2 separate regions of the Homo sapiens genome follow, and region 2 is linked to region 1. Evidence: fine-mapped expression QTL. A gene starts in region 1. The other region holds a variant in brackets. All regions are shown on one strand. Distances are from middle to middle.

The links. PIP is the estimated chance that this variant, and not a neighbour inherited with it, causes the effect.
Region 2: its variant is fine-mapped to the expression of CEBPD in whole blood (TOPMed, PIP above 0.99).

What each region holds. Positions count from the first base shown.
Region 1 is chr8:47,734,995-47,740,364 of GRCh38, forward strand. CEBPD (CCAAT enhancer binding protein delta) reads right to left here and starts at 3,170. Exons shown (of 1, transcript NM_005195.4): 1 at 1,919-3,170. The coding sequence starts at 3,126. The coding sequence ends at 2,317. It overlaps SPIDR (scaffold protein involved in DNA repair), which reads left to right. Exons shown (of 20, transcript NM_001080394.4): 20 at 313-1,312. The coding sequence ends at 456. RefSeq lists an enhancer at 2,194-3,132 and silencers at 2,529-2,718, 3,209-3,318, 3,359-3,438, 3,529-3,998.
Region 2 is chr8:47,521,601-47,526,970 of GRCh38, forward strand. All of the region lies in intron 8 of SPIDR (scaffold protein involved in DNA repair), which reads left to right. Among named protein-coding and RNA genes, the nearest start is that of CEBPD, 210 kb to the right of the region's middle. RefSeq lists an enhancer at 2,487-3,460. The variant C/CTAA (reference allele first, on the strand shown) is at 2,183.

The sequences.
Region 1 (5,370 bases):
GCCTTCCCAGCAGAGTCTGTGTGCATCGTGTCCCAAGTAAAAACAATTCAGTTACCAGAATGGGGTAGTTCCTTCACTTGCTAAAATAAATGGGTGTGTGGGTGTGTGTGTGTGTGGGTGTGTGTGTGTGTGTGTGTGTGTAGTGGCTCTTCATTTGTTTCTCCTTCCTACCACTGTTCTCAGCCATTTGAGGAGTGGAAGGTCGTGGACTGGGGAAAGGGCCTTCCACTCTGGCTCTCTGGTTTTCCGTGTTGTTGGGAACAGTACGTCCCAGGCTGTTTGCTTTAACCAGCGTGCCTTTTATCACTGCAGAGCTACGAAGTGAAGAGTGTCCTCGGAAAGGAAGTGGGGTTGTTAAATTGTTTTGTCCAGTCCGTAACCGCCCACCCGACCAGCTGCATTGGATTGGAGGAAATCGAGCTTCTGAGTGCAGGAGGGGCCTCTGCAGAACACTAGCGGTTGCCGCAGGATCTGTGAACTTTGCAATGTGGCTGCAAGGGTGGTGGTGGTGGTGGTGATTTGGGGTAGTTATTTGTTAACTATGGACACAGTGAACGTAGTTTACGATCTTGAAATGAAACTTAGATTTTTCTGGGGAAATGTTCAGATACAGTTTTGTGAACTGTAAATCAAAATACCTTTTTCTACAGTTTATCTTTTATTTTCTGCAAATTTAGGAACATATTTACTCGTTTTCACATTGAATCTTAAGTTTAAGCTCTTCATTTGGTATTTAGGCAATATATGAGAAAAAAATTTTTTTTGTTCATTTGTAATTTTAACAAGTTGAACATTTTACCATGATTGAACATGTTTTTATTACAGTATTTAACATTCCCCCAAAGAATACCCTGCAAAGTGTAAACCTTTGTCCCATACTGTGATATTACTGTTCTGCTACAATAAATGTCAAACCTAAGCACTTTGCAGTTCACTACTTTTGGGAAAATGTTCTAGGGAACTGTATCACAGGTGAAACTGTTACCCATAAAGTGTAGCTCTCTGAACTGGTGTGATCGTGTCTCTGCTGAATGGTGGTGGGGATAGCTGGCTCCACCACACACACCTGTTTTAATTAGGCTGGGTAATGTGCACGGAGAGCAAAGATCACAGACTAAGGAGCAGTCAGTCGGATATTTGCTTTGCTGGCAAAGATTTAAACCAAGAATTAATTATCTTTGGACACTATAAAGATTTTGTTCCCTTCCTTATAGCAATATAATCATGACAGGCCATGGTTAACTACATCAGATACACGTAGCAGCCGTGACCAAGACATGGTGCCCTAATACCAAGTGTTCTTGGGTTAAAGGCAGGCGGCTTTTTAATTAAATCTTAAAGCACTGCAATTACTGGCAAGACAGCTGGTCTTAAGCAGTTTTGTGACTGCCCTTTTCATCCACTACATGACTATTCCGGCCTTTCTGGAGCACTTTTGAAAATCTACTTGACTCTGTCCACAAGACTGAGGAAAGTGAAAGCAAAGTCCCGGGAAAGCGGGAGATGATTCAGCCCGGGGTTCTGCCCCTCGCCCCTCCAGCAGCCTCTACAGTTAGGGAGCTCTTGAACTGTTCTCAGCAGGGGCCCCCAAAAAGTCAACCCTTCCCCAGGTCTGCGTTCTTCGGGAGAACACCTTCTGCTGGAAAGCTGCTAGCTTACCTGAGCTCAGCCGTGCTCCACCTAGCTTAGGCAAGTTAAATAAGGCCAGGAGAGAGCCTTTAATGCGTTTTAAAAGCGACAGACCCTCTCTCCTGAGTAGCTCGGGCCTGCGCCCCATCCCCCCGCCCCCCCCACACACACACCTGGCGCCCGGGCTCCCTGGTGCTCGCTGGCTGCGGGTCCGGAACGCACCCTTCCCGAGCCGGGTCCTGCGCCACCGGCGGGCGGGCGGGAGTCACTGCGAATATAGGAAGCAGGGGCGATTTCAAATGCTGCTTTATTCTTACAAATACTGTAAAAATTAATATAAAAAAGTGAGCATGCTCAGTCTTTTCCTCTTATCTACAATACAAAGGGTTTGTCTGAAAAGTCTGGTTTTTTTTCTTTTTACAAATGTACCTTAGCTGCATCAACAGGAGTAAGATGTAGAAAAAGCTACCATTACAAAAATAATTTAAGGGAAAATAAACACGTTTAGCTTCTCTCGCAGTTTAGTGGTGGTAAGTCCAGGCTGTAGCTTCTTTGCGCTCCTATGTCCCAAGAAACTGCAGCGGGCACCCGGCGGCTCTGGCTGCGCCAGGGCAGGGCGCGCTCCGCTCCGGGCCGTCGGGTCTGAGGTATGGGTCGTTGCTGAGTCTCTCCCGCCCCGGCCGCGCGTTACCGGCAGTCTGCTGTCCCGGCGGCCGGCAGGAAGGGCGGGCTGGGCAGCTGCTTGAAGAACTGCCGGAGGCCGGCCAGGTCCCGCGTGAGCTGCTCCACGCGCTGGTGCAGCTTCTCGTTCTCAGCCGACAGCTCCACCAACTTCTGCTGCATCTCCTGGTTGCGCCGCTTGGCCTTGTCGCGGCTCTTGCGCACGGCGATGTTGTTGCGCTCGCGCCGCTGCCGGTACTCGGGGCTGCCGCGGTCCGGGCCCCTCTTGCCGGCGCTCTTCTCCCGGGCGGGGCCGGGCGCGGGGGTCTGCCTGGGGCTGCTGCGCGGCGGCTCCGGCGACGTGGGCGGGGTGGGCTGCCCTGCGGCCGCCAAGCTCACCACGGTCTGTGCGCACGCGGCCACCTGCGCGGGCAACAGCGAGCCGGGCGCGTCGCCGTCGCCCCAGTCGGGCTCGCGCTTGAGCAGGCGGGGAGCGGCAGGGCCCGGGCCCAAGGGGCGCGCGGGGCCGCCGGGAAGAAGCTCCAGGGGCCCCGCGCCGCCCGCCTTGTGATTGCTGTTGAAGAGGTCGGCGAAGAGCTCGTCGTGGCACAGCTCCAGGGTGGGCACGGCGGCCATGGAGTCGATGTAGGCGCTGAAGTCGATGGCGCTCTCGTCGTCGTACATGGCGGGGGCGGCGGCGCCTGGCTCGCCTAGGGCCCCTGGCTCGGCCCCGCGGCCCGGCTTGCCCGCCCGGCCCGGTTCGTAGAAGGGCGCAGGCTCCGCAGGCCAGGGCGCGCCGCGCGCCGGGCCGTCCAGGCTGAAGAGCGCGGCGCTCATGGCGGCGTCGGGCCGGGCTCTGCGTCCAAGCGAGGCTGTCACCTCGCTGGGCCCAGCCCCGCCGCCTTTTCTAGCCCCGGCTGACGTGCACGCCCCGCCCCGACTCCGGCACCGCGGGGGCGCCCCGGGGCCGCGGGGGAAGGGGCGGGGGCGCCCTGGGAGCCCCCCGGAGCCGCCCCGAGCCTTCCCGGGGCGCGCCCCCTCTCAGTTCCTCCCCGGGGCCCCCTCCCCGGCCCTGGGGACCCCCAGCCCACGTTGCAGGAGGGTGCCCGCGCTGCTGCTCCCTCCCCGGCCCGGGCCGGCCTGCGCTGCGCTGCTGGGAATGACACTCCCTCTGCCAGCACTCCAGGGCCTTCTCTTCTTCCTGTTTGTGGGCTTGGAACCTCCTCGCTCCTCGGGGTTGGGAGTGAAATCAAAACCAGGACTTGGCCGCAGCGCGCGCGTCCCAGGCCGGCTCCTGTCGCCGGAGGGCGGGGGGTGGAGACCCGTGGGAGAGGACCCGCGCGTCCAAGGACGCCCCCCGACCGTGGGCACGCGCGTGAGGCCCTCGCCCCGCGCCTCCACCGTGGGACCAGATGCGGGAAGAGGCGTGGGGGACCAGACGTGGGGACAGCGGCGGCCTGGCAGGCGGGGAGGGCTGCCCGCACCGCACTCGGGCGCCTCGGGGAATCCGGGCCGGTTCTCGCTGCTCTCCTCGGAGGTCCCGGGTCCGGCCGGCCCTGGGGGTCGAGGCCCAGAGACGCGGCTGCTGCGTCCTGGCCGAAAGGCCGACGGGACGCTGTCGCCAAAAGCAGAGCAGATGGGGGAGACGCGGTCACGACACCGCGTCCTCCGCCGGCTCCTCGAGGTGCGGGCTCTCCGGCCGGACGCTACTCCCCGACCCCGCAGACCCGGGCGTCCGCCGCCAGCTCCCGCGCCCGCGTTTCTTCCAGGTCTACGGAAGCAGTGCCATCGTGTGGCGGCATCTTGCGTTAGACCTGTTTTTAGTTCCAGGCTCTTTCCCTGTTAAATATTCCAAAAAAGTGCCTTGAACCTAAAGTAGTTGGGTCCTTTTTGGGAAACAGGTAAGATCTACCAGTAGCTATAGCAGGGTGCAGATGGGCCTCGACTCACGATGGGGTTACATCCCGGTAGACCCATCGCACACTGAAAATGTCTTAAGTAAGAATGGGCTTTGTCATGTGTCCTGCAATTTGAGGCAGGCATTTCTGGTCAGACCCATTTATTATTTTAAATTAAAAATATGGTTTTTTTCAGCCGAGCACAGTGGCTCATGCCGGTAATCCCAGCATTTTGGGAGGCTGAGGTGGGCGGATCACTTGAGGTCAGGAGTTTGAAACCAGCCTGGTCAACATGGTGAAACCCCATTTCTACTAAAAATACAAAAATTAGCCAAGCGTAGTGGCGTGCGCCTGTAATCCCAGCTACTCGGGAGGCTGAGGCAGGAGAATCGCTTGAACCCGGGAGGCGGAGGTTGCAGTGAGCCGAGATCGTTCCATTGCACTCCAGCCTGGGCGACAGAGCGAGACTCCATCTCAAAAAAAAAATTGAGATGGGATCTCACAATATTGTCCAGGCTGGTTTCAAACTCCTGGGCTTAAGAGATTCGCCGGCCTCAGCCTCCCAAAGTGCTGGGATTACAGGCGTGAGCCACCATGTCGGGCCCAAATCCATTAAATCACTATCGCTAGTCACACCTGCTCCATGTCGAGTCTCTTCCTGCGCAGGCCTCTCACCAGATCTGCGTCGGAACACCAAGCTCTACTAACTGCTGTGCAGTTTCTGCAGTCAGTTCCAGAGGTCATTTCTAACGTTGCACTATGGGATATTTAATAGGTTTCCTAAAGAACAAACATATTTCTTTAGAGTTACTCAGAGGGTACACAATGATGATGTCACACAATTAATTACCTATTAAGACTGAAATCCAGCAATGCATAGAGTGTGGACTTACGCACATCCAGAAAAAGTTCTAGCACAAATTGTTTTGTTCTCATATATTTCAGAAGCCATAGAAACACTATTAAAGCCCTCCCTAATCACTTAGGGAATGCAAAATCAATATTTATAAGGGATAACCATATCCTCCTAAAAACAACTCAGAGACTATTTTCAGTGAGATGATTTACTGATTCCGATAGTCAATATAGTTACATTTTATTTTTATTTTTATCTTTATTTTTGAGACGGAGTCTTGCTCTGTCGCCAGGCTTGAGTGCAGTGGCGCGATCTCAGCTCACTGCA
Region 2 (5,370 bases), 210 kb before region 1:
TTTAGTAGAGATGGGGTTTCACCATGTTGGCCAGGCTGGTCTTGAACTCCTGACCTCGTGATCCGCCCACCTCAGCCTCCCAAAGTGCTGGGATTACAGGCGTGAGCCACCGCGCCTGGCCACTCTTTATTTTTTTATTTTCCTCTACTCAAGACAGCTTAGAAGAGAGATCCATTTTGCATTTGGAATTCTTCCAGTTAGTTTTGAAATCTAATCAACAAGATTGGGGAGTGTTTTGTGTTAATGAAATATGTTCCTAGTTCTTAGAAATATATGAATGAGGCCAGGCACGATGGCTTATGCCTATAATCCCAGCACTTGGGGAGGCGGAGGCGGGTGGATCACTTGAGGTCAGGAGTTCGAGACCAGCCTGGCCAACATGGTGAAACCCCGTGTCTACTAAAAATACAAAAATTAGCCATGCATGGTGGCAGGTGCCTGTAATCCCAGCTACTGGGAAGGCTGAGGCAGGAGAATCGCTTGAACCTGAGAGACAGAGATTGCAGTGAGCCGAGATCGTGCCACTGTACTCCAGCCTGGCAGCTTGGGCGACAAGAGCGAGAGTCTGTCTCAAAAAAAAAAAAAAAAGAAAAGAAAAAAAGAAACATGAATGAGCAGGAGAAAAAGAACTGTGATACTGAAGGGGTCAGCCTCTCCTCCTGTGCGCCACTCTTCCCAATGGAGCATGTGCTTTGACTCTGGGGTTTCTGCAGCATCCACAATAAATATGTAACTGTATTTTGTATTTACCCACATGTGTTTTCCCTCCCATGGTGTCTTTCCCTAAATCTGTGAAGAAAATAACTGTTTTAAAATTCATTTATTTTCTCCATTTGGTTGTCAGCAGCAGGAAAGGCTGCTGAAGGATCCGAGCCAGTGTGGAAATGGGAAGGGCCTGTGAGCTCAGAGGGAAAGAGGAAGTCTCTATGTCCCGGTTACCAGCATGACCCCAGGTCAAATGACTCCCTCACCCTCTCCTCCTGCCAAGGTTGGTTAGGGTTCAAATGTGTTCCTACCCAAAATCACACAATGTCACTGTGTGGGATGCACAATATTCCATTGCTTTGCTCTGTTAAAAAAGACAGTTAAAAGTAAGAAGTATTTGTTGCAATTTTTAAAAACATGGTTTTTAAAGCTATCTTATTAGTTTTTAATGCTAAAAGCATTTTATTTACTGAAGATTCTTGGTTTTGGATAGGTTTTATTTTTTCATTAGGTGGTAGTACTCTGTTTCTGAGAAAGCTCTTTATTATGCATTATTTGTGAAATCTCTAGTAACCTGATGATGTTTCTGTCACATTGTTTTGAAAGGAATAGTTTAAAGATTTAAAGTGATCTTTTTTTGTTGTATGTGTGTGTGTGGTTTGCTTTCTTTCTTTCTATTTTTTATTTATTTATTTTATTTTATTTTATTTTTTGAGCGAGGGTCTCACCCTGTCCCCCAGGCTGGAGTACAGTGTCACAATCTCAGCTCACTGCAGCCTCGACCTCCCAGGCTCAGGCAATCCTCCCACCTCGAATTGTTGGGACTACAGGCATAGCGAGCCACCATGCATGGCTTTTCTTTTTTAATGCAAGTATTTCTTTTGGAATTTGAACTTTAATACTACTTTGGTGTGTTTTCACCTAAATTCCATTTTGTGAGCTTCTTAGTATTTGATTGAAAACCTATTTCGTTTTACTTGACCCTAACTAGATCAACAAGATAAGGATATTACCCAAAGGTCATTTCTAGTAGGATTGTGGCCACAAACGTCAATTCTGTAGCCAAGTATGGACTAATGTGGACTGAGAACTTGGCTTAGAGGAAAGACGCATTTCCACCTGTTCAGGGAGGTTTGAAGATTATCCATGTTTTGAGGGAAAAGGCCAGCTGAATGTGGAGAGTGCAAAGGTGTAACTGTCACTTGAGCTTTTCAGAAGTCCTTCGATGTAGCTGCCAACTTAAACCACCTCAAGTCCAGCCAGTACAGCAGCTCTGCTTTATCTTCAGTGTGAGTCTGTCTCCCTGCCGGCTGGTGATGGGGGTCAGGCTGGATCATGGATGCGACCACCCTGCACCCAGGCCTGCCTCTCTTTTCCCTGTTACATAGTGCTGGGCAGCCTCTGGGGGCCTCACAGATTTTTGTTTTTTAGTGGTAATAACAGCATGATCAGGCCGCAGCCTTCTCAATAAGAAGTG[C/CTAA]TAACTTCCTCAGGAAAACAGAAGTGTGGTATGCACCATTACATAACCCAGTTTCTCTGGTGATACAATTTTACTTTTTGAGAGCTGTTTTGAAGTCTTCCCACAGAACTGCAGGCCTCTCTGTTTTCCCGTATGAGGTGAGGAGATGGCAGTTTTGTCCACACACCTATGAAAAAACACAATGACAGATTAAGTGTCCTGAAGTGTCGGAAGGATACCTGGTGTGGTAGCTTCTAAAATACCACCAAAAGTTATTTTAGAGATGAATTAATTAGAATTGACATCTGAGTTAGGTTACCAAATGAAATAAAGGGTGCCAGGTAAATGTAAACTTTAGATAAACTATCAGGCACATGTATGCTAAAAAAATTATTCATTGTTTATCTGAAATTTACATTTACCTGGGCATCCTGTATTTTATTAGGTAAATCAGGCGACTCTCCACCTGAAACTAGATTATGCAAACTAAGAATTAACATAAAAAGTACTGTCATTGTGTGGATGAGAAATCTCCTCCTCCTCTTCTCCTAAACCAGTTTAGGAAGCCTGTGCTTCGTCATTTCTCATATACTCTCCTCCCATGTACATCCAGATTAAAATGTGTGTATTTGGCATGTGGCTCACTGTTTCACATGCCTAACTGCAGCCCCTCTGGGATCCTATAGTCGCAGCACTATTTTGGTAGGTCAGCCATGGGCAGCAGGTCCTGTACTCTCCTGACCACCCCCGAGGAACTGCAGGCTCTCAGCATTTGCGTGTGTCCCTCCTCAGAGCCGTGGGACAACCCCAGCCAGCTAGAGGCAGAGAGACAGGCACGTAAACCTCCTGGCACGTCTTGCGGGTGCCTGGGCCAAAGTATGCGACTGTCCTGATTCTCTGAAGGTCTCAAAGCATTTTCATATTAAGTTATTCAAGTGACCCAGAGAACAAGAAAGGAGTTGCTACTGCATGATGTCAGAGAACACTCAGAGGTTGGAAGGGAATTGGGAGAACTAAGTAATTATTAATAAATTCTAAAAGTTTAATACTCAGTATTCAAAGGAGAAAGAGTGGAGCTAACACTTTGTACCAAGGGTGCTGGTCTTGGGAATTAAGATATCTCCTGCAAGAGATTTCTGATACAATTTAGTAAAATGTAGTTTTTAGGGGAGATCTTTTACAGAAGGAAGCTTTTATTTCCAAAGGACTTCATGAAAGGTGTAAAGGCCACACTATGAATTAGGGATGACACACCCTGTTTTGAATTGGATTTCCTGCTAGTTCTGATCCGAGGCATTCTTCCCGGACTAGGGTGAATTCAGTTCCAGTGTTTGCTTGAAAACTGAATCTGGTCATTGTATTTGCAGTTTGGCTTCCTGCCTGCTGTTAAAGTACAGAGCAAACTTCAGCTAGTTACTCCCTATGATTCTGTGTCCTCCTAAAGAGCAGGGAAAGAAGAGGGAAAAACCCAGGGGGTGACTGAGTTCATTTACATGTTGTGCCAAAGGGCAGCTGCTTGCTGCCTTGTCGTCACAAGATTCTGTGGAGAATCCTGATAGTCCATTTACCAGAATAGGAGCCTGGAAAACAAAAGGAAAAAAAGTATCTTTCTTTCTATGGTTCTAGCTTTGGCATTACTAACTGAATAACCTACTTTCTTTTTCTTTAACCAACATAGGTGAAAACTTAGAAAATTTTATGTTCTCCCTCTTTCCAAAGTTTTCTGTATGAAGAAAGAACTTATAAAAAGAGGTCACAGCTGGGCGCGGTGGCTCACGCCTGTAATCCCAGCATTTTGGGAGGCCAGGGTGGGCGGATCACCTGAGGTCAGGAGTTCGAGACCAGCCTGGCCAACATGGTGAAACCCCATCTCTACCAAAAATACAAAAATTAGCCAGACGTGGTGGCATACGCCTTTAGTCTCAACTACTCAGGCAGCTCAGGCAGGAGAATCGCTTGAGCCCAGAAGCCACTGCACTCCACCCTGGGTAGACAGAGTGAGACCCTGCCTCAAAAAAAAAAAAAAAAAAATCACAAGGCACGGTGGTAGCACTGCTGGCTAGTTGGACCTGGCTGTGCCTACTGAGTTGTCCTGAGAGAACACCAGGTTGTGTACATGCTGTCTGGATTTGTGGGAAGTGTGGGGGGCTTACCCCTTTTCCCTGCAGTTGTAGAAAATGTGATGCAATCTGCTCAGTGTAGTTCCAGCCACCCCTTAAGATACCTGGCAAAACTTAGCATAGTGTGGATCAGAAGGAATCCAGAAGCATATAGTGGCACCAGCCTATGTGTCCTTACGAATCTTGTATTCCCCTGAGTTAAACTTAGAGCCTCTGAATTTGCGGAAGGGACAGAAAGGAAAGATGTTCTGTTGTGGGGCTGTTCCCAGGCTCAGCTTCCTCACACTGAGGCAGTGCATCCAGTACTGAAATAAGGAACATTGCAATGATGCCTGGGGTCAGCAAGTGGCCTTGCTGACATCACAACATGTGCATTTCTCACTGTTCTTGGTTATTTAATTCTGGTCTGGTCCATTGGATTAGAGCCAGATTAAACATCAATAAATTTTGAGTTTACTATTAACAAAGAGCAGAGTCCTGCTACCTTACTGTTACTTTGCTAGGTGCTAAGAGAGAAATCAGAAAATTTAAGGCATGGATTTTGGTCACAGGGAGCAAAATCTAGTCTTCATTGGCTAAGAAGCCTTAAAAACCATGTAACTGTCACATAGTGGCAGACCACGAGCAAAAAGAAAAAAAATGAACCCTGCTTCTTCTTGGCTGTTTTATGGAGATGGTGCATTCAGCTGCCTGGTGTTTAGAGGAACCAAATGTACAGAAATGAAACCGTTCAGGAGATTCCCAGAGCTAACTGCAGGGTGCTGCAGGGATGTGGCAACTGAACATCCAGGAACTGTAACAAGACAGTGTTTAAATAGGTCAAAATGAAGCAGTCCAAAGCAGGAGTTCTGACTTCTGGTTTCTAGTCTGGCATATAAGGCAGGTGGAAGTTGTCATTCCTGTCTTCACAATAAGAAAAAGTTGAACAAACTAAAAATCAATGGTTTTTAGCTTCATCAGAGAATTGTCACAGAACAAACAGCTGCCCCCCAAATTGGAGCAAATGACAGGCAAATAAACAGAGAATCACAGCTTCCCAGAGCAAAAGACCTGAAGGGGACGTATCCAGCAGAACTCAGAAGCAGCCTA